2 separate regions of the Homo sapiens genome follow, and region 2 is linked to region 1. Evidence: fine-mapped expression QTL. A gene starts in region 1. The other region holds a variant in brackets. All regions are shown on one strand. Distances are from middle to middle.

Region 1 (16,025 bases):
GGCAGAGCTTGCAGTGAGCCGAGATTGCGCCACTGCACTCCAGCCTGGGCGACAGAGCAAGACTCCATCTCAAAAAAAAAAAAAAAAAAAAAATCAAACATGTAATAAATGTGGATATACCTTAACAGCTCAAGAAACAAACTGAGTATGAATGCTTTACATAAAATATAATTATCTGTTCCAATTAATTATGAAATGGGTAAGAGAAAAAGCCCTCATACTTACAGAACAGAACCTGGACCAAACCATGATGAAACGGGCTCAATACTCTTCCACTCTTTATCACTTATAAAGTTTATGAAGTCCTTCTTAGTCCTTGGACCCTGATAGCGCCTAAATTCACCATCTTTACAACTAAAGAGAATCAGAATTAAATATTATCCAGCACTGAGAAATAATTTAATATTTATTTTGCTATTTTTTCACTTCACTTTACAGTCAATTCTAACATTCAAAAGCATTAGCAATGTACAAGTATTAATAGCAAATTATACTATTTACCTACTCATGACATTTTAGCCCCCAATTTAACAATGAGGTTACATTTTTTTAAATCATAAGCCTTAAAATGTAATTACTGTTATTCTTCCAAGTAATGAAACTATGAAATACAGTAAGTAGATAAATCTCAGGAAAGTACTTTTAAGCCTTATGTGTAATACACATATTAAAAGAATTATATAAAAATTATTAGAATAGTGCTTGGCACATAGTAATTATTAGCTGTTAAGCTATAACTTAAAATTTTAAGGCATTTTTCTAGTACTTTTGGCTATAATAGCATCACCTCAGACACCCTGCTTTAAATCACTGGAGGCATCTGGTATGGTGCTTCCCTTCCTCTCATTTCAGTGACTATTTAGTGAGCTTTGCAGCCTTCCTTAGATCCACCTCCTCCTTCCCATTCCCAATGTAGAAAGTTCTGTCAGAGTCACAAATGTTCTCTTGGCTCCAACATCTTTAAGTGCAAAAACTCATCAGCTCCCTACTAGGGACCTGTTAAGTAGGGTTAAGGGACCCTTTATCCACTCAGAGGTAAAAACCACGAGGAAGCCCCCCACCCCAAAACACAAAGTTTTTGTGAAGTGTCATTTGAGCTATTATTTGAAGCATAGGTAAGATTTCGACAGGCAGGAAACAGGAGAAAGGATATGGTAAACAATTTTGACTAAAAGAAAAAGGGCAGGAAATTCCAAATAAGGTCACAGGGCACTAAGAAGTGAAAAGCAAAGGGAGAGACTGAAGGGGCACGTGGGGAAAAGGACTGAATGAGAAGGGCAGGACAGAAGCACTTATGGAGACAGCGAACAGAAATTTATATAGATGTAAAGGGAGTAGGGGTGAATTTTAAAACCATAAAAAAAAGAAAAAAGGGCAAAGAAAAGCAAGCTATAAATACAAAGAATTGTCAACTTATTTTCAGTACCTCCTGGTATTTAACCTACCAGCTACATGATGTTGGGGTACACAGACTTGAGATTTCATACCCTCAATTTAGAAGATAAAGTCAAACTAATAGACCTGACACTGAAGACTACATAATCTTGCTCATTCTGTTTTATTACCCAACTGTCACCTATTACTCTACCCAAGGCTGTACAACAGCACTTTCTTAGCTACTTTTTGGACATAACATGTTCCTGTTAATGACTGTTTATGAGATTGTCCTCACAATAAAATGCTTACGCTCCACTCTTAAAATTCTACTTCCAAGGTTTCATTTAAACCCCATATTCTCTGGGAACCAATCCAGGTAACTGTGATTTCTCCTTTATCCAATTACCTACAGGACTCACCACTACTTTGGATGCATAATGACTTAACACGCTGAACAGGATCACACCATTTCACAAGAACATCACTTTCCAAAACAACTGTAAATCTTTGAGAACAGAGACTGTTTCACACATCACTCAACTACCTAAAGGCACCTAGGATAACACTAAGCAAAACAAGCCCTCTAAAATACCTGCTGAATATAATGAGATTACCTCAGCTCTTCCAGCATGATCCAAGCCAGAGGCCTACTACTTCTGATTACACTATAATGCATCCTTCTCCATAATTTAGAATCTTCAAATACTTACTGATAAATAGTAGGAAGAGCAGTTATGATAAACCGTCCACTCAGTCCTACAAATAAAGAACACACAGCAGGTTTTACATAGGCCAATCACTGACTACTTAAAACGTGACTTTGAATTATTTAAATACATACTAATAGGAAAGAATATGAAATTATACCTAATAGTTGAGCTTCGTAATACATAATTTAAAAATGAATTATGTACTTAAAGCAACTTTAAAAAACACAATACTGCACATTATCTCAGTTAAAAAGTATGTAGAACTAGAGTACTGAATACATTTTTAAATAAAAACACTTCAACATTTATATCACTGTCAAAATTAAGACTACTAGTAATAAGAGCACCTTGTGCTCATGGGAGAGCACAAGGTAATAGGGTCTTAGATCTAAAATCCAATGGAATTGTACTTGACATTCAACAAACAAAGGCAGTTTATGGTGCTGCTAAAAATGGAAAATACTATGAATCTTTCATGAGACAGGCAAAAATAATAGCAGCTAACATTTATTGTTAGCCATGTGTCAAGCACTGATATTACAGAGAATTGACCTGTGCCTCAGTTTTCTTATCTGTGAAATGGGGACATTACATATTTCACGGGGTTGTATAAGGATTAAATAATAAACACAAGATATTTGGAAGAGTGCTATAATAGGCAAGCGCTCGATAAATATTACCTATTATTACCATTTGGGATGGGACAGCCAAGAATCCAAGGGTAGTGTGACTACCGAGAACGGTAAGATGAGATTGGTCTGTGGAAGGAACCTCCTTAAGGGCAGGACCTGCCACTTGTCCAGGGACCAAGTCAGGAGTGCACTTGACCTCACAACCACGAGGGCTTTATATTTAGAAGCCCACATCCTCAAATCATAGGTACTAAATTTAAAACTCAATTTCAGAGATTCAGGTCTTCTTTTGTCAGGGAACGTGACCTTGACTCCAGAAAAACACTCAACCACATGCTCCTTATTCTGAAGCCTGGTATGGATGCAAATGTGGCTTGGCCAATGTTCACCTGAACCACAGTGTCCTAGGACTTCTCAAAGGCATCTTACATACTAGTCTGGGGCCTGGGATGCAAAGAACAACAAATCAGAGGCAGTTATGTGGGCAAGAATAAAAAGAGGGTAATGTCTTCAAGAACCCTTAAAGCAACACATTCAAGAAATGAGGTGTATACACAACCAGGGAATCTCCATTTTGCAACCATTGCACACTGAGCCCCCAGCAGGGAGGTGGACAAGTCAGGTTAACTAGCTGCAGACTGTTAGGTTTTCAAAACCTAAAGAAAGGTAGAATTAAGACTATGCAATGTAGAAAAAAGGATAAATATATCAACCCAAACAGCAAAGAAACAAAACTAACCAAAGACTTACAGTACCTGGCTGCTCTGTGACATCTACTTTCGCAATATTAACCTCAAGATCTTCTCCCCATTCAGCAAAACTTTCCCATTCCGGTTGAAGATTTTGACAAGCAGGGCACCACGGGGCATAACTAAGAAATACAGATTTTTTTTTAAAAAAAGTTAAGCACTTTAGTATGACCATTTATCTTGGGATAAAAAATTTAAATGTATAATTTATGAAGAATATTTCATATGAAAACACTGAAGATGATAAGGTGGTTAATTTTATGCAGATGAAAAACTTTTAAGGGTAGATCTAACAATCCGGAAATCAAGAATGATGAACTGATGATGCTAATCAAATAAAATTCTGAGAATAAGACACAGGATTTTTTCACATGCAAAACAGCTCTTTAGAAAACTTTTGCATTTCTCTATTAACGGTGTGGCCACCAGAAAGCTCAAGACCAAAGTTAGAGCTTACCAATTTTAATAATTTATAATGCAGAGTCACAAATGCAAGGTGTTGGAAAAACAGAAGTGTCCTGGGCTGTGGTGAATAAGAAAGCACATATTCCATCTTAAAGTGGCAACCATTATTAAGTAGGATTGCCACTAAGGATGCTGGCACACTAAGGCTGGCTATTCATATTTAAAAGAAGATGGAGAGCTGCATTTTTATATGAGAATGTTACCTCAAAAAATAACCCACACACAAATACTAAGCAGGCCAAACAAAACTCTTGGCCAGTTAGGTCATCCTGTTTCCAAGACCTTGGATTTACAAATGCAAGCATATTAGCATTTAAATTACTCCTCTGGTATTATCTCCTGAGGATCTTATTTTTCCACTTTATTGTATTTTATCTTATAATACACCACAGGGTTGTTCTTTTTTTTTTTTTTTTTTTAACAGAACCAGGAAGAATAAAGCCTAAAGCAGTTAAACACAAAACTATACTTTCTGTACTTCACATTTTCTTCACTTGTTTTATGAAAACCAAACTCCTAAAATAGACATTGTAGAACAAGACAAACTGGTAGTATAAAAGCCAAGCTCCTAACAATAAATCGTATTACAATGAAAATATCTCCATGACAAAACTTCTGAGCAGAAATGGATTTACTGTAGATAATTCACTTGTAATTAGGAGCAGACTATTACTAAAACTACTAGAGTCCTTCTTTTTCAGGTTCGTTTTGTTGCTCAGTTGCTTTTTTATTTTTTGAAACAGGGTCTCGCTTTGTTACCCAGGCTGGAGGGCAGTGGCGCCATCTGGGCTCACTGCAACCTCAACCTCCCGGGCTCAAGACATCCTCCCACCTCAGCCCAAGTAGCTGGGACTACAGATGCCTGCCCACACGCCCAGCTAATTTTTCGTATTTTTTTGTAGAGACTGGTTTTTGCCATGTTGCCCAGGCTGTCAGTTGCTTTCTAAAAACTTACTTTAGAATCTCTACTTAAGGAAAAAGAAAAACTACTACTCTATAGCATAATTTCAGATAGATGCTCCAATGTGGATTTACCTCATACTCAATGTTTTGTTAGTCTTGTTCTCCTTAATACTACTTCTGATTGCTGTATTTATATAGTTGGACCATAATGAGTTAAAAAATATCCTTGAGTAATACTTGACTGTATTTTGCATATACACACACGATCACTATTGCTTAATATATTGCTTATAACACTATTTTACAGGCACGATCTAAAACAAGTTACTCATGATGATGACTGAAAAAGTGTCACAGTTCCTCTCCCCTGAAGCTTTCAATGGTGCCTGAATGAAAATTCATTTCAGAATTGCAGACTACATGCATACTATGAAAATTTCCCTTTATCTTACCCTCCATATAAATGTTCTACTTTTTTTTTGAGATTGAGTCTCACTCTGTCGCCCAGGCTGGAGTGCAGTGGTGCGACCTCGGCTCACTGCAACCTCTGACTCCCAGATTCAAGCGATTCTTCTGCCTCAGCCTCCCGAGTAGCTGGGACTACAGGCGCGTGCCACCACGCCCAGGTAATTTTTTGTATTTTTAGTACAAACGGCGTTTCACCGTGTTAGCCAGGATGGTCTCGATCTCCTCACCTCGTGATCCACCGGCCTCGGCCTCCCAAAGTGCTGGGATTACAGGCGTGAGCCACCGCGCCGGCCAGTTTTGTTTTTTTAAAAAATAACACAGGACTTACTGATTTAGCCTTCTGGGTTCTCCCTTGGGGATGTCACTTTCACTGGCCTCCTTAACTTGACAACCCTTGCTGTATTCGTGACACAAGAAAACACTCACCTGAACCCTGTTGTCTTTTCATTTTTATTTATTTACTTATTTATTTTGCTAGTTGCCCAGGATCTCTTGAACCCCTGGGCTCAAGTCATCCTCATACCTCAATCTCCTGGGTAGCGTACGCCACTTCCAGCTGAACCTTTTTAAAGAAGAAGGTGTTCTAACAACAATTATTGTATGCCTACTCTGAAGACCCAAAGAAAGCCAGCACAGCAATATCTGCATAGGTTAACTAAAGTATTTAGGTATCTTGTTACTCATTTGTAAAACGTGAAAAACACCTGTCATAGAGAATTTGTAGGGAATTAAATATGGTATTCGTGTAAAGGTGCTTAGTGGTGTCCAGTACACTGTTAATAATTATGCTTTTACTATTATCAGTAAATACTGCTAATATGTATAATACCACCATCAACAACGACTTAGCATCTAAAGCAAAGACAGATACTTTATTTCCCACCGCGGCAGAACAGATATTATTAAATTGAAATCACCACACAAAATACATGATTTCGTTCGAGCAATAAATGATGACCTGGCGCTCTTGAGAGTGTATACATTAATACATTATCTTTTAATGTAATACCATTTACAAAGACCTAGGAGTCACAACCCAAGGTATTCTCTACACTACAAAGACACCCAAAGGAAAAATGAGATGAGGAGTGAAAAAAAGAGAAAGCAAAAGAGGAGGCAAAAAGAGAAAACGAAAACTTAAAAATAACCCAACTTGAATTGACTCAGTATTTACAATAAAAAAGAAACGTACCCAATCCATTAAAAAAAGCTTAAAAGCGCCAAATTCCAACACCATAAAGAGACTATCTTTTAAGGACAGACAAAACGAGAGGAGAAATTTTGCTCAATATTCTCTTATGTAAAATGTGGTGAAAATAAGTGTAGAAGTCTGTGAAGAATCACTTTAACTACTTAGACACGAGTCGGACACCTCCCTCCCCGCGCCCCAGTCGCATCCTCAAAGTCATGAAAAATGTCAGAATTCGCATTGGCACTAACCCTTTGGGCGCACCACAACCCAAGAAACGAAACGAGGGTGCACCCCAGAAGAAACTTAACATTCACGGGTAAGAGACGAGGGGGTGGGACCAAGCTGGCGGCAGATCCCAAGAGTTTGGGGAGCTGCAGAAGTCGGGGACGCTCGCTCCGCAACTCGGAGGCGCAGTCCTGGGGAGCCTGCGACCCGCACGAGGAACGTGCGGGGTGAAGTCGTGTGTCCAGGCACGGACGTAGGACCCTGGCCGCCCCGCACTCACAATTCTATCATCCAGTCTCCTTCCAGCAGTTCTCTCCAGTTCTCGTCCGTGATGACGCGAACGTTGCTCCGCCGCCCGTGCGTCCAGGGAGCACCCCAAAGCAACAGCACCAGGACTGCCAGGGGAACTGCAAGACTCCCGGAGGGCGCCATTTCGCCGCTTGCCCACCTCACAGGGAGCGCGGTCGCAGCTCCCACTTCCGCCCTCGCGGGCTGCTCAGCGCAAGCGCACTACGGTGCTGCGAGGAGCGCCTGTCTAGAGGACTCTCAATGCGCATGACAGGGGTCTGATCCCAGTGAGTGGTGAAGTCGGGAAAGAGGGAAGAACGACTCTCCGCAATGCGCATGACAGAAAAGCGGCTGCTTCTACCGCCTAGGGTGTCCCAATATTGTGGGGGAAGGAACAGAGCAAAAGGAGGCGTGGTGTAAAAAGTGGGGCGGTGCTTTGAGGAAGAACGGTTTAAAAGACCCTCCCAGGATTTTGGCGCCAAATGGTTAGCGTTTACAAGCAAATTGGTAAGTTTATAATGTGCTAAAGCAGTTTTCCAATTAAATGTCCTTCAGAGTTCTCATTTGTTTTCTTTGAAACATGTAGTAAAGCTAATGGATTTTATAGGAGTCGGAATATTGGTTTACTTCTGAGAGATTATAGACAGGGAAGGTGCAGAGGAACATTATGGTTATGTTGGATGTGTTGGAGGTGTTCAACATCTAGATATGAACAGTAGTTACATGGGCGTACGTATATGATTTTTTTTAAAGAAGGATCAAGCTGTACATTTTAAGACAGTGCACTTTATGCACTTTCAGGTGTATGTTATCTCTCAAAAAAAATTCAGTAGGTACAGAGATCCTAGGTCAGTACTTCAAAATGGAACCAGACACATAGGCTTGTAAGATATTTGAGTTTTTTCTCTCAAACATTCGTAAATACAAATGCAAACCAAAATGTGCACTGCCCCATCAGTCAAATGAAAATAGTTGCAGGTGCGGTGGCTCACGCCTGTAATCCTAGCAAAACAGGGAGGCCAAGGCAGGCGGATCACTTGAGGTCAGGAGTTTGTGACCAGCCTGACCAACATAGTGAAACCCCGTCTCTACTAAAAATACAAAAATTAGCCAGGCGTGGTGGCAGGCGCCTGTAGTCCCAGCTACTCAGGAGGCTGAGGCAGGAGAATCGCTTGAACCCGGGAGGCGGAGGTTGCAGTGAACCGAGATCATTCCACTGCACTCCAATCTGGGCTATAGAGAGAGACTAAGTCTCAAGGAAATAGTTGCCACTATCTTACCTCACCTTTTCAACTTAATTAACCCCAATTAGTCCCCTTCCCCACCCCTCCACTGAATAGCCCTCTCAAGGACACCAGCGACCAGCAAGATAAATCCCAATTGTTTCTTCTCAATGCATCTAGCATGACTCCTAGCCCCATTCTACCACACCCTTGAAACACTTTACTATCTTGCTGTCTGGGCAGCTCGCTTTTTTTTCTGTCCTACAGTAGCTGATTCTTCTCAAACTTCTTGGCTGGTCCTCCTTTACTTCCGGACATCGGCATCTCCAGGATGCTTTACTGCCCCCCGCCCCCCATCTCCCGCCACCTTTCTCTTCATATCATCAGGCTCTCATCTTTCTGGGAACTACAGGCATATGTATTCAACTGTATATCATTCAGACTCTGATCTTTCTGGGAACTACAGGCATATGTATTCAACTGTATATCATTCAGACTCTGATCCTTCTGGGAACTACAGGCATATGTATTCAACTCCTTGCTAAACATCTCTTGGGTATGTAATAGCTGGTGAAAGGAAAAGAAATCTTGGGGCCCCAAAATCATTAAGCTAAAGGGAAAAGTCAAGCTGGGAACTGCTTAGGGCAAACCTGCCTCTCATCCTTCTTCTCACTGAGATAAATGCATATCTGATTGCCTCCTTTGGAAGGCTAATCAGAAACTTAGAAGAATGCCACCATTTGTCTCTTACCCACCTATGACCTGGAAGCCCCTTCCTGGCTTCGAGTTTGTCCCGCCTTTGCTTTGAGTTGTCCCACCTTTCCAGGCCAATACAATGTTCATCTTACATATGTTGATTGATGTCTCATGTCTCCCTAAAATATATAATATAAAATCAAGCTGTGCTCCACCCACCTTAGGCACATGTCCTCAGCACCTCCTCAGGCTATGTCATGGGCGCGCATTCTTAATTTTGGCAAAATAAACTTCCTAAATTGACTGAGACCTGTCTCAGATTTTGGGGGTTCAGAAGCTCAAACATCAAACGGCCAAAAAAGATAATTCTTGATTCTTCCTCTCCTGGTCTTCCATCCACTAAAGAGCCCCGAGGTTCACCAGGTTTCTCTAGCCAAACATGTACATGTTAATTCTTTATTGTTCTCTCTCTTCACCTTCTCCTCTTGTAACCTATGAGCAAATCTTGTAAACGTTACCTTCAAAACGTATCCTGAATCTGACCACCAATTTCCATCTCAACAGCCAACACCCTAGTCCAGAGTTTTCTTGCCTTGAGTACAATGAGAACTTCCTAAATTTGTGAGAAAATAAATTTCTATTGTTTAAGCCACCCAGTCTATGATATTTTATTATGGCAGCCCAAGCTAAGACACTAGACCTCCATTACAATGTTGAATAGAAATGGCAAGAGTGGCCAAACATACTTATCTTGTTCCTGTTCTTAGGAGAAAAGCGTTGTCTTTTACCACTAAGTATGATGTTAATGTGAATTCTAAATAGTTGCCTTTTATACAGGTGAGGAAGTTTCCTTCTATTCCTAGAAGGTCGTCTGTTTTTATCTTGAAGAAGTGTTGAATTTTGACAAATCCTTTTTCTGCATTTATTGAAATGACCATGTGGTTTTTGTCCTTTACTCTATTGATATGGTGTTTTTTTTGTTTTTTTTTTTTTTTTTTTTTTGAGACGGAGTCTTGCTCTGTCATTAGGCTAGAGTGCAGTGGTGTGATCTCAGCGCACTGCAACCTCCGCCTCCTGGATTCAAGCAATTCTCTTGCCTCAACTCCCGAGTAGCTGGGATTACAGGCACGTGCCACCACGCCCAGGTAATTTTTATATTTTTAGTAGAGACGGGGTTTCACCATGTTGGCCAGGATGGTCTCTTTCTCTTGACCTCATGATCTGCCTGCCTCAGCCTCCCAAAGATACAGTGTATTACATTGATTGATTTTGGGACATGAAATCAACCTTGCATTCTTGGTATAAATCCCACTTAGCCATGGTGTATAATTCTTTTTATATATTGCCACATTCAGTTTGCTAGTATTTTGTTGCATATTTTTATGTCTATATTCCTTAGAGATATTGGTCTGTAGTTTTCTTGTAATGTCTTTGGTTTTGCTATCAGGATATAACTGGCCTCGTAAAATAAGCTGGGAAGTGTTCCCTCCTTTTCTATTTTTTGGAAGTGTTTGTGAAGAATTTGTATTAACTCTTCTTTAACTGTCTGATAGAGTCTAGCAGTGAAGTCACCTAGGCCTGGGCTTTCCTTTGTAGGTAGCTTTTAAATTACTAATTCAATCTCTTGTTATAAGTCTACTATGATTTTCTATTTCTTCTTGAGTTGGTTGTGGTAGTTTGCATCTTTCTAGGAATACGTCCATTTCATGTAAGTTGTCTAATTTGTTGGCCTAACGTTGTTCATAGTATTATAATCCTTTTTATATCTGTAACATTGATATTAATGTCCTCTCTTTATTGCTGGTTTTAGTAATTTGAGTCTTCTTTCTTTTATTTATTGGTCAGTGTTATGGTTTGGATATGGTTTGAGTTTGTCTCCATCAAAACTCATGTTGAAATTTGATTCCCCATGTGATGGTATTGGGAGGTGGGGCCTATTGGGAGGGATTTGAATAAAGGGGGTGGATCTTGTGAATGGCTTGGTGCTGTTCTTTTTTAAAAAAAATATATAGGGTATCTCTCTGTCACTCAGGCTGGGGAGAGATGGTGCAATCATGACTCACTACAACCTCAAACTCCTGGTCTCAAGTGCTCCTCCAGTTCAGCCTCCCAAGTAAAGGTGATAGCCTCAATGCTGGCCCTGGTGTTGTTCTCATAGTGAGTGAGTTCTCACTCTGATGAGACTGGATTAGTTCTCTTGGGAATGAATTAGTTCCCTTGAGAATGGGTTGTTATAAAGCCAGGATACCCCTTAGGTTTTCTCTCTTTGCACTTGTCCGCTTCCCTTTTGACCTTCTGTGCCATGTTATGACCCAGCACAGAAGACCTCACCAGAAGCCAGGGCCATGCCCTTGAGCTTCCCAGCCATTTGCACCACGAGCTAATAATCATGACCTATTTTGTTTATAAATTACCCAGCCTTCTGTTATAGCAACACAAAACAAAGTCAGTATAGCTAAAGGTTTCTCAATTTTGTTGACCTTTCCAAAGCACCAACTTTTAGTTTTGTTGGTTTTCTCTACCATTTTTCTATTCTCTTCTTGATTATTTCCTTCTTCTTTATGCTTTGGGTTTATGCCCCCTTTTACCCTGATTGTTTTAAGATGAAAGTTATGATTATTGATTTGAGATCTTTATTTTTTTAACGTATGTGTTTAAGCTCTAAATTTCCCAACCCTGCTTTAGCTGTATCCCATAACTTTTGTTTTGTTGTGTCATCATTTCATTCATCTCAAAGCATATACTAATTTTCTCTTTTGATACCCTTTTTTGTCAATTGGCTATTTAGGAGTGTGTTTTTCATTTTCACGTTTGTGAATTCCCAAATTTATTTTTGTTATTAATTTCTAATTTCATTCTATTGTGGTCAGAGAACATACCTTGTATGATTTCAATCTTTTTAAAATTTATTGAGATTTGTTTTATGGCCTGGTATATGGCCTATCCCAGAGAATATTCCATCACTTGAGAAGAATTTGCATTCTTCCATCACTGGGTGTTCTATAGTTAGATGTCTGTTAGGTCTGATTGGTGTATAGTGTTGTTCAAGTCTTCTAGTTTCTTGTTGATATTCTGCCTACTTGTTCTGTCCATTGTTGAAAGTGGAGTATTGAAGTTCTCCAAATATTGTTGAATTGTCTATTTTGCTCTTCGTTCTGAAAGTTTGTGTTTCATGTATTTTGGGGCTCTGACATATATCTTTATAATTGTTATATATTCCTGAGGATTGACCCTTCTCATCATAAAATTTCCTTCTTTACACCTAGAATTTTTTATTGGTTTTATATTCATTTTGCCTGATATTAGCATAACCACTTCAGCTTTCTTATTGCTGCTATTTGTATGATATATCTTTTCCATCCTTTTACTTTCAACCATTTGTATTTTTTAATCTGAAAAGTGTGTCTCCTGTAGACAGCATATAACTAGACCTTGAGGGTTTTTGTTTTTGTTTTTATTTCTTTCTACCTAGTCTAACAATGATTGCCCTTTGATTGATTACATATTTAATCCATTTGCTTTTTTTTTTTTCTTTTTTGGTGGGGGACAGGGTCTCATTCTGTTGTCCGGGATGGAGTGCCTGGACACTCCACTTACTGGTAATGTTATTGTTTTGTTTGTTTGTTTGTTTGTTTGGCTTTTTTGAGAAAGAGTCTTGCTCTGTCACCCAGGCTAGAGTGCAGTGGTGCAATCTCAGCTCACTGCAACCTCTGCCTCACGGGTTCAAGCAATTCTCCTGTCTCAGCCTCCCAAGTAGCAGGGACTACAGGCATGCGCCACTATGCAGAGCTAATTTTTGTATTTTTAGAGAGATGGGGTTTCACCATGTTGGCCAGGCTGGTCTTGAACTCCTGACCTCAAGTGATCTGCCTGCCTCAGCCTCCTAAAGTGCTGGGATTACAGGCATTAGCTACCACAACTGGCATGTTATTGTTAATATGGTTGGATTTCTGTCATTTTACTTTATGTTTTCTATATGTTTTATGACTACTTCATTCCTCTATTCCTCCTTTACTACGTCTTTTACAATAAACACTTTCTAGTATAACATATAATCCTATAAGAATTTCTTATAGTGTATATTTTGAAAGTTTTTTTTAGCATTTTCTTTAAAGTTTACTATATATATTAATTTATCAGAATCTACTTCAGATTTATACTAACTTAATTCTAGTGGGATACAGAAACATTACTCCTATGTAACTGTTTACTCTTTCTACTTTTTGTGTTATTGTTATATATTGTATCTATGTTATAAATTCAGTAATATATTGTTATAATTATTAATTTATGTACTTTTATGTTTAATAAAGAAGCTGAGGAAAGAAACAAGAACAAGTATATATTTAGTGTTTATTATATTAATATTCATATTATCATTTTTGGTTATCTTCATTTGTTCCTGTGGATTTAAATTATCATCTGGTATAATTTCCTTCCTCCAATACAACTTTGCTCCCACCCACCATCTTTATGCTGTTGTTGTTAATTATATTACATTTCTGTATGTTATAGGCCTAACAATGCAATTGTAAAAAATTGTTTTATACAATTGTTTTTTAAATCAGCTAAGAGACAAAAGGAAAATAAATATACATTTATACTGCCTTTTATAATTACATAATCACCTTTGCCCATTCTCTTTGTTTTTCTTGTGGCTTTAAATTACCATCTAGGCACACTTGCTTTTAACTTGAGAAGCTTCCTTTAGTATTTCTTATAAGGAAGATCTGTTTGCAACCACTTTTCTCAGTTTATGTTTATCTGGGAATGTCTTCATTTAACCTTCATTTTTGAAAGATGGTTTTGTTCTATATAAGATATTTGGTGTATAGTTTTTTCTTCCAGTGCTTTGAATATGTCATCCACTGTCTTCTGATCTCCATTATTTCTGATGAGAGGTATCTAATAATCTTATCAAGGTTCACTTGTACGTGACAAGTTGTTTTTCTGTGGCTGCATTCAAGTTTTTTTTTTGTCTTTGTTAGCATTTTTACTATGATGTATCTGGGTGTGGAGCTCTTTGCATTTGTCCTATTGGCATTTGTTGAACTTCTTGTACATTTAGATTAATGTTTTCTGGAAAATATGAAGGTTTCAGTCATTATTTCTTCAAATCCATGTATTTTTTGCTCCTTTCTCCCTCCTTTCCTTCTGGTAATCTCGTTAAGCATATGTTGGTAAACTAAATGGTGTCCCACATTTATTGCTCATTTTTCTTTATTCTTTTTTCTTCCGTTCTTCTGATTGCATAATCTCTGTGAATCTATCTCAAGTTTACAGATTCTTTCTTCTGCCTCCAAATTACTGGTGAGCGCCTGTAGTGATTTTTTTTATTACAGTTATTGTACTTTTTAACTCTAGACATTCCATTTGGTGCTTCTTAAAAATAATTTCTATTTATTGATATTCTCTTTTCGATGCAACATTGTCATCATACCTTCCTTTAAGTTCTTTAAGCACGATTTATTTAAGTTTGTTGAATATGTTTATAATGAATGCTTTGATATCTTTGTTAAATCTGACATTTTGGCTCTGTCACAGGTAGTTTCTGTTGCCTACTTTTTTCTCTGATCTATGGGTCATACTTTGCTATTTCGCTGCATGACAATTTTTTCATTGAAAACTGGACATTTTAGGTAATACATTATAGCAATTCTGAGTACTGATTCCCTCTATATGGTTTGGACTTGTCTTTTGTTTTTATTTGATTGTGGTTTGTTTAGTGACTTGGCTAGGCTATTTTGGTGAAGTCTATTTCTCCAGTAGCGGAAGGCCTCTGCTCCCATTTCTCAGAGAGTGCAGCCTTGGACATGTGCACCGTCACCAGGGGATATCAGTGGTTCTAGCAAGGCTCTCTTTGACTGTCTCTTTCCTTGATCTCTCTGTTAAACTTTCTGTCTCGTTTGGTGTTACCTCTAGCTGTTGTGCTACACTAAGTGTAGGATGATTTCTCTGTTTAAGAAGATACCCCCTGGGGCATAAATTGCTCCACAGTCTAATCCAATAAAATTCAGGCATTGGTAGTTTTTGAGGCCAGTCTTGGAGGTTTCCTCTAACCTCAAGAGGGCTCTTCTTAGTTGTCTCCTTCCCTGGTTCTCTCTGGTAAACTAGCTAGCTTATGGTTTAGCTTGTTGCTTTTTATTACAGGAAACTATTGTTTTTTTTAGAGCAACCCGAGGCTTGACCATCACCCACACTCTGTTTCAAATAAAGGTAAGTCCTCTGGGGAGAGCTTCAGGGCTCTCTGTTTTTATGGGCTGCGTCTACTCATGGGCAAAATTGCTTAGTTATTATTCTGGGCACTGGGTAGAACAGGAGGCTCTGATCTTCTTGACTTGCTTCTGAAGTGGAACCTCTGCCATATGAGCAAGCTGGGTTAAGGGTGATTGGAGTTCCCAGTGTTCTCACTCTGCTGCACCTGGCATAGAACTTTTGTCCCCTGTATGGGGCCACACTTACCAGGAATTTAGCCTTTGCAACTCAGAGTTGGAATGGATGAAAAATGCTGGTGGCCTTTTCCTCCTGGTGAGATATTGCCTCTCTTGATTGAGAGTTGAGGAGACAGGGAGCCCTATGTTCTTGGTCACACTCACCCAGAGTAGAGTTTTGACCAAGATGAGCTCAGGGGGTGAGGAAGATGGGTAGGAATCGAGTGTATGGCTCAGACGCCATAGACTGTTACTGTTCTTACTCAGTTTTAGTGGATTTTCTTGAAAAAAAAGAATGCTTCTTCATTTGCTGTATGCCCTTAGGACAATTTCCACAGACTTTAGATGGTTGTTTTTGTTTTTATAGTTTTCAACAGTATTATGGGATGAAGTTGTGTGCCCCCTCCAAATTCATGTGTTGAAGTCCTAACCTCTAGTAACTCATAGTGTAACTGTATTTTGAGATAGGGTCTGTAAAGAGTCAAGTAAGTTAAAATGAGGTCATTAGGGTGAGCCCTAATCCAGAATGACTGGTATCCTTGTAAGAAGAGGAAATTAGAAAACAGACTTGTACAGTACAGAGGGAAGACCATGTGAAGACACAAGGAGAAGATTGCCATCTACAAGCCAAAAAGAAACACCACAGAAGAAACCAACCCTGTCAAA
Region 2 (16,025 bases), 24 kb before region 1:
CCATGAAACCCCAAAACCACAAAGGTCCTCTTTGTGCACCTCCAAATGGATTCATACAAGTACATCCTGCAGTGAGTTTTTAATATGTCCTGTCCACTGTTTGCTTATTCTCAGGATAGACTAAGCCTTTCCTTGCTAGGGAGCTATGGCTCTATGGTAGAAAAAATATTATCTGATGTCATATTGCCAACCTGTGGAATTCAAACATCTCTCTAGTGGCAGGGGTCCCAATTTTTCTAGGATTGTTATTAAAGAGCTTTGCAAGGCCCCTCCACTTAATCAGAAAGTTCCCTATCTATATTGCCCCAATATCCAAGAAAGGTAAAGAATAAATATAACTCTGAATCTCAATTTTGCAAAGTTCCCAGAGACTCTCAAAGTTCTACGGTCTAAGATATTCCCATAAGCTTTAATGAGTCCACTGGAGTCTATCAACTCTTGCTTTATGAGTAAATACAGGCCTGCCCAGGCATCTAGGAATATTACATCTGATTCTAGACTCCAGACACAACTGGCAAGCAGACAGGACCAAGTATTACAAGGAACTCATGCTAAACATCCAGTCTTATCAATAGGTATGAGCAGCCTTTCCCCCAAATCCTCCCAAACAAACTTCATACAACCTGAAACCCAAAGACTTGGTCTTCTGAAAGAAACAATTTACTCATGAATTAGCTAAATAAAGCATACACTCAAACTGAGAGTTGGGATTATATACATTTTCCTTTTGGAGGAGCCACCCAGCTTCCGTTGGTTCCATTTCCTTGTAATGAGATCAAATGATTTTCTGGGTAAAATACAAGGATAAATAGCCTATCAAAAACCAAAACAAAACAACAAAATGTTCCTGTCTCCACCAAAACTATGCTTGAGACCTTTGGGACCTTTTGTGGGAGCTAGCTTTTGTACACAAACTTTCACAGATAGAAAGCTTGAAAGAGAACTAGGGAACAGATTATGCATATTTGGAGACTATCTCACTTTACCCGATCTGACAAGTAAAACACACTACTTCTCTTTCACTTTAGAACAACCAAATTAATAGTCTTGACACCATAAATTTCACTGCCTGGAGCCAGACCACTCTTCATAAGTGGCCCTAGAGCATAGCAAAAGGATTTGACAATAACCACAGGAGTATTTTGACCAAAAACAGACGACTGAGTGGCCACCAGTGAGTGGATTTGTAACACAAAAACCTACTGGCTACTACCTGCAAATCGGACAGAGGCTTGTTACTTTGGTAAACTCCTAACTAACCTCAGGATAGTCCCTGTTATCATCCAAGATCTGTTTTGATTCATCAATTTACCCTCTTAGAAAAAGAGATAGCTTCATGAAAGGAGAAAAAGTGGGTCTTGGTTTGAGAATCGAAACCCTAATCACTCAAATTCTGGATTGCTTTCTGCTGTCTTCAATCCTCTTCACTTTATAAGAGGCCTAGAGGTAGAGAGTCTCCGGCATGCTATGGTTCAGAGAAAAGCAGGAAAGCTATAATAAACAATGCTACCACAACTACAGAACTCTTTGCCCAAGAGGTTCAGAAAATGGAACTCAAAAAGAGCCCATTAATTATAATATTGGTGTCTTGAGAGAAAACGTGCTGTTTTAGGGGGAAATGGTATGCTTATAGCCCTGCAGATGTCTCTGGCATCTTTAACAATACTAAAAAGATCTGGTAAGCTAACCAAAAAATCATAAAATTAATTAACTTTATGATTTGACTAATAATCCCATACCTGGTACTGCATCTCCTCATTATATAGGAGATAAAATCTGTTCTTCTAGCTTAATTTGGACACTCTTGAGTCACGGCTTAGAGGAAGACAACAAACTGATCATAATCCTTCTCTTGGTATATTTTATTTACAGGGGCTCAGATGGTGTGTCCTCAAGTTTTAAATGCTGCTGTCCAACTGTTGTCTTACCACATGATTAAACAAATGATCATCCAACAAAAAGAACAGAAAAACCTAACACTTGAATGTTGAAACAACCATCTGGGAAATGATACATGACTAAGAGACTATATATAGCAGAGAAGATCTAGACTGATCACATCCCCAGTAGTGAATCCATCAGCTCAGGCCAAAGAATGGCAATAAGGGGGTGAAAAGGAAAAACTGTTTCCTCTATATTCACACTTCTGACATCAAATGTATAGAAGCTTTCCACACCAAGCAATTCTCCAGTTCTCTGTGGATACCAACAGGGTGTCCTACAATTTAATTCTGACACTGACTGTACAGAGACAGTGCAGACCCCACAGGTTAAGGGCTCATTCCCACAAGACTGCCTCCCTTTCCCCACTTCAAATGCCAATCAAAAATCCAAGCCTCCCATATTTCTGACATCTATAAATCAGCAGTTCCTAAGAACCCCTCCTAAGGTTCAATAACTTACTAGAATGGTTCACTGAACTCAGGAAATGCTTATTATTTCTGGCTTATTATAAAGGATACAACTCAGGAATGGCCAGAGAAGAGAGGTATTGGGCAGCAAGGTATGTGGGAAGGGATATAAGTTTCCATGTGCTCTCTAAGCATACCACCCTCCCTGCACCTTCATGTGTTCACCAACCCAGAAACTCCTCGAGCCCCTTTATTAAGGGTTTTTAAGGAGGTTCCATTACATAGGTATGATTAATTCAATCACTGGTCGGGAGAAAGCTTCGAAGTTTCAGTCTTCTAATCACAAGGTTGATTCCCCTGGTAACCAGTCCCTATTCTGAAGCTATAATATTTAGGGGCTTTTAGCACCACTCTTTTCATGAAAATATTAAAAGACACTCACCATTCACTCCGGAGATCGCAAGTTTCTGAGAAGCTCTTGTGTCAAGAACAAGGAATAAGATTTAAAAAGATACTCCTATCACCCCACCACTAAGGAAATTGCAAGAGTTTTAGGAACTCTGTGTCAGGAACTGGGGGGCAAAGACCAAATATATATTTCATATTATGTTACAAGGGGATACACTAAAAGCTGAAACCATCTGCACCCACACAGTTTACCGTCAATATCAACAACTGTCTTCATTCACATAGCATTAATATTCTAGGAAATTTACCCAGGAAGGTAAATCTGCAAATAATTTTATTTGTTCATTTCAAGACATAGTCATAATCATTTATCTGAACACTCAACTACTGAACATATCATAATCATTTATCTGAACACTAAACTACTGAACTTACCCTCATCAAAGTATATACTCCTTTCTCAGAATACAGCAATGAATGTCTACTTCTCAAGATTCACTTTATTTTTATTTTATTTTACCTTTCAGATGGAGTTTCACTCTTGTTGCCCAGGCTGGAGTGCAGTGGTGCAATCTCGGCTCACTCCAACTTCTGCCTCTTGGGTTCAAGCGATTCTCCAGCCTTAGCCTCCCAAGTAGTTAGGACTACAGGCATGTGCCACCACATCTAGCTAATTTTTGTAATTTTAGTAGAGACGGATTTCACCATGTTGGCCAGGCTGGTCTCGAAAAGCGCCGGGATTACTTGGCCTTCCAAAGCACTGGGATTACAGGCGTGAGCTACCGTGCCTGGCCAAGATTCACTTTCAGATCCTATCCACAAATTTGTCTAAGCATAAGCCCCCAAATGAAAAGACCCACCATAAGCCAGAGCCCCAAGGAACCCAAAATATCCTGCCTTTGCTCTCCCTCTAAGACATTACCAATATGCTGTCAATGTAGTGATCAATAGGATTATTTTGGTGTACTTCAGGAAGACAGGATTTTACAATAGAGTAGGAAGTTTAAAGTACAAGGTGCCATACAGAAAAGTCCCATGCAAGATTAGGGTAGCATAGCATAGGAGAAGTTACTACACTAACATTCTCCCAAAGTGTACTTTAAGAAATACTGATCTCTTAGGATATTTAAAGTTGTTGCTTTCAAAAGGGATTCTATATTCAAACAAACTTGATTAATACCAGGTTGAACAAAGGTAAACTGGTCTTATTGGTAATAGGTACTGTAAACATCCAGCTGGAACATACTGTATTGACATACATATCAAACTCATTTGACCACGAGCATTGTCCTCATAAATATCTTGTGGGATTAGTTTTCTACAGAAAATATTTTGAGAAACATTGAACTCTACTAAAGTCAATGATCCTAGGTTCAAGTCTTCATTCCAACACTTACTTATGGTGTAACCTCACCCAAGTCTTTTAGCCTCTCAGTTTCCTTATCTGTAAAATAATAATAATATTCATAATAATAAAAAATATGCGCTCTGTCTACTAATAAAGGTTGTTGTTAGAGTCACATGAGATAAAGAACATGAAAGCCCTTTGTAAACTCTAAAGCAACGTACACATGAATAAAATGTTTTTTTTTGTTTTGTTTTAGAGACGGAGTCTCACTCTGCTGCCCAGGCCAGAGTACAGTTGTCTGGTCTTGGCTCACTGTAACCTCCACCTCCTGGCTTCAAGCGATTCTCCTGCCTCAACCTCCTGAGTAGCTGGGACCACAGGTGCACACCACCATGCCCGGCTCATTTTTGTATTTTTGGTACAGAAGAGGTTTCACCACGTGGGCCACGCTAGTCTCAAACTCCTGACCTCAAGCGATCCGCCTGCCTCACCCTCCCAAAGTGCTGGGATTACAGGTGTGTGTGGTGAACAAAAGGTTTTTACAATATCTCACATTAGAGATAAGGGAAATCCATGGGGATCATGAGACAGTATTATTGGTGAAATAAAATGGAAAATATTTTATTAAAAGTTGTTTTTTGTGGCCGGGCGCAGTGGCTCATACCTGTAATCCCAGCGCTTTAGGAGGCCGAGGCGGGTGGATCACGAGGTCAGGAGATCGAGACCATCCTGGCTAACACGGTGAAACCCCGTCTCTACTAAAAATACTAAAAATTAGCTGGGCGTCGTGGCCGGCGCCTGTAGTCCCAGCTACTCGGGAGCCTAAGGCAGGAGAATGGCGTGAACCCGGGAGGCGGAGCTTGCAGTGAGCCAAGATTGCACCACTGCACTCCAGCCTGAGTGACAGAGTGAGACTCCGTCTCAAAAAAAAGCTGTTTTTTTTTGCAAAGTTGGATAACTAGCACAATTGGGGCCTTCTTTGGTGGCTTAACTCAAGATCAGTGGTAAACAGCCGAATGAAAAAATATATTCAGCAAGAACTTATTAAGATGACAGTGCCAAGACACTAATATGATTCCATTTGAATTTGGATACTTCTCCTTGCTATGATAAATTTTATAATGATGCTTCTAAAACAAAACAAAACAAAAACCCTCAGTAACCCAACTGACCTTTTTCTTCCTTAGTGAGTGCCAAGCATCAGATTAAATCTGATCTCCCCATATGTACAGGAGGAAGTGTCACTGATGTAACTAAAATGCCAAGATAATCATTCACCTTGTGAGTCTATCTTTTCTTAACACAGACACAAAGAGTAATGAAATTACTACAGGCATGGGTGTCACAATAATACAAACTGTCACCTGATAGATCTCTTAAGTCAATAGCCCTTTTTGATCAAAAATGAGTTCTATTTAACAATGTGACTAGAGCATTTAACTTTACAGTTGTATCACATAGCATGGCTTCCAGTAACTCCACTCAAACAAAACTTTGTGAAGGATGAAGAAATCTACTGATTGGGAGGAGATTCTAATACTTGCTTTCTATCTATCTGCCTTTAAATGAGCTAATGAGGAAACTTCAGTTTATTCATCTCCCCCTAGACGTATTGTTCCCAGACTTCAAAATGTTATAAACCAGTAACATTCTCCTCCAAATGTTAGACACAAGAAACTGTCAACTTCTAACTTTACTAAGGTCATTTTTAAAAATTACCATCATTTTTCATTTTAGAAACACTAAGAAGTAGAAAGATATCATCTTAGAATAAAGGACTGCCCGAAGGATTAATAAAAATATACCACAATGCCCTATTTTTGTGGACTATGATTTCTTTGGAAGCTCATATCCAAGATGAGAATAAGTAACAGATCATTTTATGCAGTTTGCACGTACTCAGCTAAAAATCAGCCTGAAAACTGGGACCATTTAAGAATCTGAATTTATGTGTTAACATTGAATGTAACTAAAAATGTTTATATGCAATATATTACTAAAAGTTATCAAGCAGTTTGGCTTCTCCAGCAGTAAGGTGTCAAAGCATGCACTGACAAGGAGCTTGCAAATACATAAAAAAAAAAAAAGGAATCACATTCTTGACAGGTTTACAAAATAATAGTTTAAAAAATGGTTCCAGTTACAGTGCAAGTTACAGACTATTAAGCAGTAGTCTTATTCAACTGCAATCCACCTTTATAAACATTAGACTAAGAAACATTCGTGATAACATAAACATTTCTCATCCTTTCCTTCCTCCTCCTCAAAGGAAACAAAATAGCAAAATAATTCCTACCACCTTCAAACTTATATTGTTCCCATTCTCAGAAGACAACTAAAGTAACTGTCCAAAACGATTTGTAAGAATTTGCTCACTAAACATAAAATCCAAATATAAAAGTTCTATTAAACAAGTCAAGCAAGGCTCTTTTAGGTTCAAAGCCTGCTTTCACACTAAACAGCTATATTTGAACCCAATATATACTATTTTTAGCTTCCAGGATTTCATCTCTAATGCTTACAGAGCATAACATTAGTGTAATGAATTATGAGCTATAATAAAAAATAGATCCCTGAAAGGAAAACTATACTCATTTCACCTTTCATTACCCAGTGTTTGTTGTGTCTGATTTGGCCCAAGAATTACTTTTTACCACATACATGTACTCTTTGTTCCCCCTAACCTTGGAATGTCACAGTGAGAGAAGTAAACCATAGGCTTGAAATGAGCATTCTCAGATAATGAAATACATATGGAATGAACTGGGTTAAGTTAAATCAAGACACCATTGTTCACAAAGTCGAGAGGTAACAGCCATGCTCATAATTTCAACTGAAAAGTCTTACTCAAAATGGTTAGGTAGTAAGAAAAATTATCTCAAGTAAGATGTCCAGAGGTAAGGGGTATTACACCAGGACTTTCCCTTTGCTTTTCTGAGATCCTCTTGGCTCTGCCATCCTGTTTATTGGCTTCATCCTCAGGCTGTGAGATGACCTCAAAATTCTGTGCATCACATTCAGATAATGCCAAACTCCAGAAGAGAGAGAACTATCTCTTTGCTGAGTCTCATTTTTAAGAGGCCTTGCCAGAATACCGCAATATCTCAATGGCTCTATTTGGAGCACACATCCATTGACCATGTCAATTGC[T/A]GGATTGGATTAGCATGTGTGTTCATAATCTAAACTCAATCTAGCAGGCAAAGATGGAGTCAACTGCCCCTGAAGCATATGAACGCAGGGGAGACACAGATGGAGGACTTAAAATCTGGCTTTTGCAGTGAAGGATGGGATGATGCTAGTACAGTGACACAACACAACAGTATTGTCTATGAGAGTAAAGGGCAGGGCAGCCTTTTTCATTTCTGGCTCCCCATTCTCAGCAGACTCAGGGTGTGATTATTTCCTAGTGACCTGTTTCGTTTTACAAATGTGAACATTAATGCTCGGAAGTCTCCCACTACATCACTACAGTTTGTTTCAAACTAACAAGTTTCAGGCCTCAAGGAGCTGACAGTCAGGTTTTGGAGACAAGTATGAATCTAATAATTGTCTTCTTAAAGGTAGAGAAGAAACTTCAGTAATCATTTTACACATAAATTGAGGACAAGAGATGTATGGTCTTTGCTCAATGTCACTTAGCTAATTGGTATAATAAATGCAAGAGAAGAAACATTACAAGACAAATGTGACTTAACTGCCAGAGGATGATAAAACCTACACTTGTGGGCCGGAAAGGACTTTAAACGGATTTCAGCTGACTTATGAACCAACAGACAATGTGAGGAACATTCACTGAAGAGCTGATTTGTTAAAGTGGTCTCAAGAATATTAATTGAGGTGGATGGTAGGCAGATAGTTAAGAACATTTAAAATTTCCAACCAAGAAATATATATTTGATTCTGTGGAACATGGGAGATATCTAAAGTTTAGAGAACATTTCTTAAGAATGCCCTGCTACCTCAAAAAAAAAAAAAAAAAAAAATTAGCCAGGTGTGGTGGTCCACGCCTGTGGTCCCAGCTACACAGGAGGCTGAGGCAGGAGAATCGCTTGAACCCAAGAGGCAGAGGTTGCAGTGAGGTGAGATTGCGTCACTGCACTCCAGCCTGGACTACAGAGTAAGACTGTCTCAAAAAAATAAATAAATAAATAAAAGCCCAGGTAGCAATATGCCAATCATCCTAAGGACTTGAACTGATATACTCAAATCCACTAGGTAACCTTATTTCTGACCTGCTTTATTAAAAACACTGAAAATAGGAAGGCTTGAAAAAAATACATTGCTTAAGTTACTCTTAAAAATTAAGTATGTTTCCACTGAACTTAAAACGATGACTCTTAATTATATTTACATTTAAAAGAAGTTTCAGATAAGTCAAACCTCTATTTGGTCAATTTACTTCTGGTGTTTTCATTTCTCATGTTTTGGACACAACCAGTCTGAGTTATAACACCACTAGGAAAACAAGCTTAAAAGTAATGTCACACCCAAGTGGGTAGAAGATACAAGCGGATTTCATTACCAGGCAAAATACTGATATTATCACCATTTGTAATTAATGAATCAAAATAAACAATTACTTTAAAAGAGAGAGAGGGGAATGATGTCAGCAACAGGGCAGAATAGAAGGCTCCTGACTGTCCTTCATCCCACAGACACACTGGGTAAACACCTACACATGGATCAGCTCTCAAGAGAAAGCCAGAATCCAGCTGAAAGACACCTACACACCATATGACTGAGAAAATATCCACATCAAAACAGGTAGGAAAAGTGGAGATACACCAGCACACTAACCCTACCGTGAGCATGGCACCTTAAAAACAGAAAGGAAACTCCAAATCCTAGCTTCTTCCTGATGGGTGAGGGACTTATACCACATGTGCTCAACATTTACAGTCCCTGCCTTAAAGTCTGACACTTAAAATTACTTTGCTTGGGAAACAGGAGGGCATGGCATCAGATTTCCTTCAAGCACAAACAACAAAGGGGGCTTTTGAACCAAACAAACACTCCCAGTTGCTGCAGTCCCCAGGATCAGCTCAGCTCCCAACTTGTTCCTGAAAGGGTTTGAACACACACTTTTCCAGCAGCTCCCTGAGATTCTGGCTTCTAACAAACCTGTACCTGGTAACCTACATAGCAAAATAAAGAATAAACCTCACTTTGGGAGGCTGAGGCAGGAGGATGAAACCAGGAGTTCAAGACCAGCCTGGGCAACATAGCAAGATGCTGTTTCTACTTAAAATTTTAAAATTAGCTGGGTGTGGTGGTGTGTGCCTGTAATCCTAGCTACTTGGAAGGCTGAGGCAGAAGGATCACTTGAGCCCAGGAGTTTGAGGCTGCAGTAAGTTATGAAGCTGCGACTGCATTAAAGCCTGGGTGACAGAGCAGGACCCTGTCTCCAAAACATATATATATATATAAGGCTAGGTGTGGTGGCTCACACTTATAATCTCAGCACTTTGGGAGGCCAAGGCAGGATGACTGCTTGAGCCCAGGAGTTCAAGACCAGCCTAGGCAACATAGTTCAGACCTCATCTCTAAAAAAAAACCCCCAAAATTTAGCTGGGCATGGTGGCATGCACCTGTAGCCCCAGCTACTCGGGAGGCTGAGGTGGAGGATCACCTGAGCCCAAGGACGTTGAAGCTGAAGTGAACCATGATCATGCCACTACACTCCAGCCTGGGCAACAGTGAGGCCCTGTCTCAAAAAATATATAAATAAATAAATAAATCTCTTCAAGTCTAAACGGGAAGCATGGCACTCCCTATGTCACCTTCCTTAACTTGCTATAGCTCTCCAGGGAAAGAGGTTGGAGACTTCTGCCAGCAAGAATGGGAGCGATAGCATCCCCTGCACCTTCTTGACCAGCAAGGGGTACCTCTCTATGTATAAAAGGGAAAGCAGACACTCCCTGCCTTCCTCCCTGGCTTACTTCAGTGACAACTCCAGGAAAGTCTCCCCCTGCTAGGAGGTTGTGAAACTTCTGTTTGCTCTAACAGGAGAGTGAGCACTCCCAACATCATCTTCTCTGGCTTGTTCCAACAACAGATCCAACCTGCAAACTCTGTGGAAAGTTTCCACATGCATCTAGCACCCCAACTTGTAAAGCCTTCACTAAGCCTTTACTGGCACCTACATCACCTAGTTCTGGAAACTGACAGAGCTCTGTATTCCTGAGTCTTCTGGACCATAGAGAACAAACAGATGACTTTTAAACTTGTACGTTCAGCAGCTATCTCCCCAGGTTCAAAGTGCACAACCTGAACAAGACTTTAAGGATCTGCTTCTGACCCGTCCTTGATGTAAGATAGAAAGAGTCAGAGATAAACTCTGGCTCTCAGCTTCTCTGCAAGGGAAGAACTGAATCATATCTCACACTCCAACCTCTGCAGTTGCATTCCAAAGGACTGCCTTCTATCCTGCCTCTTACAAGGCAATAGTATGACTTGATGCTCTCTAATTTCTTGGGGTCCACTAAGAACAAAGATTCTTTGGACAAGCACAAAGAGTTTAGAGGCACTTAGAATCTCTGGTGGGGCTGACTGAGGGAGAACATCTACATGAGGCCAGTCTACCAAGACTTGGAGGGGGATTCTTTTATCTAATGAGCAAAAACTAACACAAAAATTACGGACAATGAAGAAAAAGGGAAATGTATTCCAAGTAAAAAAAAAAAAAAGATAAATCTCCAGAAGCCAACCCTAAGGAAATGGAGATATGTCATTTGCCTGACAAAAATTCAAAAGGACAGTCATAAAGATGCTCACCAAGGTAAGGAGAGCCATTCTTAAAGAGAGAAATTCAATAAAAAGATAGAAAATATTAACAAGTACCAAACAGAAATCATCAAGCTGAAAAATACAATAACTAAACTAAAAAACTCAGAATGGTTCAACAACAGATTAGATCAAGCAGCAGGATTAGCAAATTTGAAGACAGGTCATTGGAAATCATTCAGCCTGAAGAGAGGAAAAAAAAAGGATAAGAAGGAGTGAAGACAGCCTAAGGGACATACAGGACATCATCAAGCAGAATTTATGCATTATCATTGTGCCAGGAAAAGAGAGAAAGGGACAAAACATTCAAACAAATAATGGTAAAAAATTTCCGAAGTCTGAAGAAGGAAATAGAAAGCCAGGTCCAGGAAGTTCAATGATGTAAAAGGATGAATCCAGAGACCAACACCAAAACATATTATAATCAAACTGTTCAGAAGTTAAAGACAAAGAGAAGATATTGAAAGCTGCAAGGAAAAAGTGACTCGCTACATTCAAAGGGGCTGCCCCATAAGACTATCACTGGGTTTTTCAAAAGAAACCCTGCCAACCAGAAGGAAATAGGATGATATATTCAAAAAGCTGAAAGGAAAAAACCTTACCAACCAAGATACTATCTATACCCAGCAATCCTGTCTTCCAAAAACTTTACCTGAAAAACAAAAGCTAATGATTTATCACCGCTAGACCTGCCTTACAAGAAATCCCAAAAGGACTCTTCAAAAAATACCGCTAAGTAGCAACATGAAAATATATCAAGATAGAAAACTCACTGGTAAAAGTATACAGTCAAATTCAGAACACTCATACTCTGATGGTGGTATAAAAAACAATTATATATCTAGTACAAAGGCTAAAAGACAAAACTATTAAAAAAACCATAGCTAGAATAATTTCTTAAGGAACACAAACTATAAAATATATAAAACATGTCAAGAAAAACACTAGTAGGGAGTAAAAGTGTAATTTGTGCAAGTGATCAAAATTAAGGTGTTATCAGCTTAAAATAGCCCGTTATTAGTATGTTTTACGCAAGCCTTGTGGTAACCACAAAGCAAAGATCCTTAGTAGATATACAAAAAATAAAAAGTAAATATTAAAGCATACCACTATAAAAAGTCAAGGAACCACAAAGGAAGACAGCAATAGAGGAAGAGAGGAACAACTGATCCACAATATTGACCAGAAAACAATTAACAAAATGACAGTATTAAGTTCTTACCTATCAATAGTTACTTTAAATATAAATGGATTAAACACTCCAATCAAAAAGCAGAGCAGATGAATGGTTTTAAAAAAAAAAGAAAAAAGAAAAAAAGACCCAACTACATACTGCCTAAAAGAGACTGACTTCACTTCTAAGGACATATATAGACTGAAAGTGAAGGTATGAAAAAAGATATTCCATGAAAATGTAAAGCAAAAAGGCAAAACAGTATGGTAATGGCATAAAAACAGTCACATCAACCAACGGAATAGGATAGATAGCACAGAAATAAACCCAAGTATTTATAGTCAATTGATTTCCAAAGAGGATGCCAAGAACACACAATGGGAAAAAGAGTTTCTTCAACAAATGGTGTTTGGAATAAGTGCTTTTACCAACATGCAGAGGAATGAAATGGAATTCTTATCTCACACCATAATCAACTCAAAATGGATGAAAGACTTAAACCTAAGACCTGTAACTATAAAGTTACTGGAAGCTCTACAACATTCATCTGGGCAATGATTTTTTGAACAGAACTCCAGAAGCACAGGCAACAAAAGCAAAACCAGACAAATGGGGTTGCATCAAACTGAAAAGCTCCTGCACAGGAAAAGGCATAATCCATATATTGGGAGAAAATATTTGCAAACCATATAACTGATAAAGAGCCAATATCTAAAACATATAAGGAACTAAATTCTATTTATTTAGAAATAATTTCTTATTAATGTCTAATAATTTCTAATGATTTATTAATAAATCAATTCCAGTTATTAAGAAAAATAACTTTTTTAAATGGGCAAAAGATAAACAGATATTTCTCAAAACACACAAATAGCTAACAGATATAAGAAATGCTCAACATCTCTAATTATCAAGGAAACACATATTAAAACCCAATCAGAGATCACCTGTTAACAATGGTTATGATCAAAAAGACAAATAAGTATTAGTGAGAATTTTGAGAAAAGGGAACCCTTGTACACTCTTGGTGGGAATGTAAATTAGTACAGCCATTTTGGAAAATAGTATGAAGTTTCCTCAAAAAACTAAAAAAAACAGAATTACCCTGTATCCCGGCAATCCCAATTCTGGATATGTATCCAAGGAACTGAAATCAGTATGTTGAAGAGATATTTGCACTCCCATGTTCATTTCAGCATTATTCACAGTAGCCAAGATAGGGAAGTAACCTAAGTTTCTGTCAATGAATGAATGGGTAAAGAAAATGTAGTATACATGCTGGAATACTATACAGCCTTAAAAAAGGAAGGAAATTCTGTCACTTGCAGTAACATAGACAGAATTGAAGGACATTATGCTAAGTGAAATAAGCCAGGAAGAGAAAGAAATACTGTATGATCTCACTTATATGTAGAACCTAAAAAAGTTAATCTCATAGAAACAATACAAAGGTGGTTACAAGAGGCTGGGAAGTAAGGGAGGAATGGAGAAAGAGAAGATGTTGATCAAACAGTACTGAGTTCCAGTTAGACAACAGGAATACATTTTAGTGATCTATTGCATGGCATGGTGACCACAGTTAATGCATATTTCAAAATAGCTAACTTATATTTTTAACATTTTCTCCACAAAAAAAATGATAAACTGGTGAAGTGATGGATATATTAGCTTGGTCAAATCTTTCTACATGTACACAGATAAAAACATCACATTGTATCCTATAAATATACACAATTATTTCCTGTCAGTTAAAAATAAATGACAAAGGCCAGGCACAGTGCCTCACGCCTGTAATCCCAGCACTTTGGGAGGCCGAGGTGGGCGGATCATGAGGTCAGGAGATCGAGACCATCCTGGCTAACATGGTGAAACCCCAACTCCAGTAAAAATACAAAAAATTAGCCGAGCATGGTGGTGGGCACCTGCGCCTGTAGTCCCAGCTACTCGGGAGGCTGAGGCAGGAGAATGGCGTGAACCCTGGAGGCGGAGGTTGCAGTGAGCCGAGATCATGCCACTGCACTCCAGCCGGGGCAACAGAGTGAGACTCCATCTCAAAAATATAAATAAATAAATAAGAAAAAAGGGGATATGTTACACCTGTTCAAATATATAATCTGACTTTGCTATTTACATATTACCAAAATTCCAACTTAAATTTATTGTTACTCTAGTTTTAATGGTTTCACAAATACAAAAGTTGCTAGATAAGCAGTACCAACATATCTAAATCTCCAATGATGTTCAATTAAAATTTTATTTATAGACTCATACACTCAGCAAAACCACTCATTTAATAAGTCCAACTGAAATAAATTCTTATTAATAAAATACCTATATTGAAAGTAATATATTGTAAGAACTCTACCTTAAATTGACCATGGGGATGAACTACAATGTCATAAAATATGAGCCAAAATGTTCACTCAATAATTTTAATTACATCACAATTAAGCCCAGAACTATGCCTTTTTTTGTGTAAGGCTGAATAAGGACGAAACTGATGAGAGAAAATTGCTTTCTAAAGCATCATTTACTGCAATAACTTACTTTATGCAATAACCAACATCACGAGACTGCAAATACTGAATAATTATGGTTATTTATGAATAGCATTTATTCACTCCTACATTCTGACAGGAGTGAAATTTTAAGACCAAAATAATAGCCGGGCATGGTGGCACATGCCTGTAATCCCAGCTACTTGGGAGGCTGAGGCAGAAGAACTGCTTGAACCCAGGAGGTGGAGGTTGCAGTGAGCCAAGATCATGCCATTGCACTCCAGCCTGGGCAACAAGAGTGAAACTCTGTCTCAAAAAAAAAAAAAAGACCAAAATAAGAGATTGCTGAATTTCATGTACCCACACTGAAGAAAAAAAACAAAAACAAAAACAAACAAAAAAAGATTTGGAACAAGAATTAGATTCAAATTTTACCTATTTGTACCACACCTCTGGGCTGACTCACCTGAAAGATGTGCAATGCTTACCTGTCTTGCAGTTGTCATTAGGACTAAATTAATAAATACAAGAAAACAACAAAGCTCCAGTAGGTACTTGGTAAATGGCAGCTGTTAGATGTAGCCAGAATTCTTCATTAAAACTTTTTTCAGTCTTTCTGATAATCATTAAGTATTTACACAACGTAAGGTAGAATACTGTATTTTCCTCTAGAGATCAGATTTTACAATACTTCAGTAGTACAGCTGAATTGATTATGGTGGGTAGGTGGCCCAGAATTCTCCAGGATATTACTTTTACTATACCTTATTCTTTCCTAAACCATTTGTAAATAATCCCAAAGTTTCTATAAGCCTGTTACTAACTGAAAATTAATTACTCAGATGTCTACAGTGACAATCTTTAAGAACCGTGAGATTATATGTTTCCTGAAATTTCAAGACCCTATCTGTTCAGCCAACTTTACATTTTCTATAGTACAGGGGTCTTTTTGTGGTTTTTGTTTTGCTTTGATTTTTTACTCTATAGAATCTTTCTGGTCACATATTTTCTAATAAAAAAATTGGCCATGTCACATATACTAGAACACTAAAAAAAAAAAATGCTTGATTAATGAGCATTACTGTCCTTAAACATCTCAATAGAAAAAGAAGGCAGTCTTTTGATTACACATATCAAGTACATATATAGGAACACACAACTACTCATCTGAACATCGTTAAATACAAAGTAATAAAGCATACCTTCAAAAAGCAACCAGAAATCATACTGGTCTTCAGCTTTAATGAAGTGGTTAGAAAGGTTTATTTTGTGCTTAGGATATTTTTCTAAGGCATCACAAGTTACACATCCAAACTCTTCAATGGTACAATATTTTAAATTCTAAAGGAGAGGGCTTTAAAGAAAACTTGTATATTACGATACTGTAAATCTAATGGATTCACACAGCAACAGAGCCTAGAAAGAAGGGGACATTACAGAAATTGTCTACTACGTAATGGTCA

The links. PIP is the estimated chance that this variant, and not a neighbour inherited with it, causes the effect. A credible set is the group of variants that fine-mapping cannot tell apart.
Region 2: its variant is the best candidate, but not a certain one, in a credible set for the expression of TMX1 in lung (TOPMed, PIP 0.53).

The regions. Positions count from the first base shown.
Region 1 is chr14:51,231,421-51,247,445 of GRCh38, reverse strand. It overlaps TMX1 (thioredoxin related transmembrane protein 1), which reads right to left and starts at 7,199. Exons shown (of 8, transcript NM_030755.5): 1 at 7,002-7,199; 2 at 3,475-3,590; 3 at 2,088-2,133; 4 at 226-354. The coding sequence starts at 7,153. It overlaps LOC124900346 (small nucleolar RNA SNORA70), which reads right to left and starts at 3,356; the gene lies at 3,222-3,356. RefSeq lists an enhancer at 6,921-7,160 and a silencer at 7,021-7,363.
Region 2 is chr14:51,255,821-51,271,845 of GRCh38, reverse strand. TMX1 (thioredoxin related transmembrane protein 1) reads right to left here. Exons shown (of 8, transcript NM_030755.5): 8 at 14,191-16,025. Among named protein-coding and RNA genes, the nearest start is that of TMX1, 24 kb to the right of the region's middle. The variant T/A (reference allele first, on the strand shown) is at 7,258.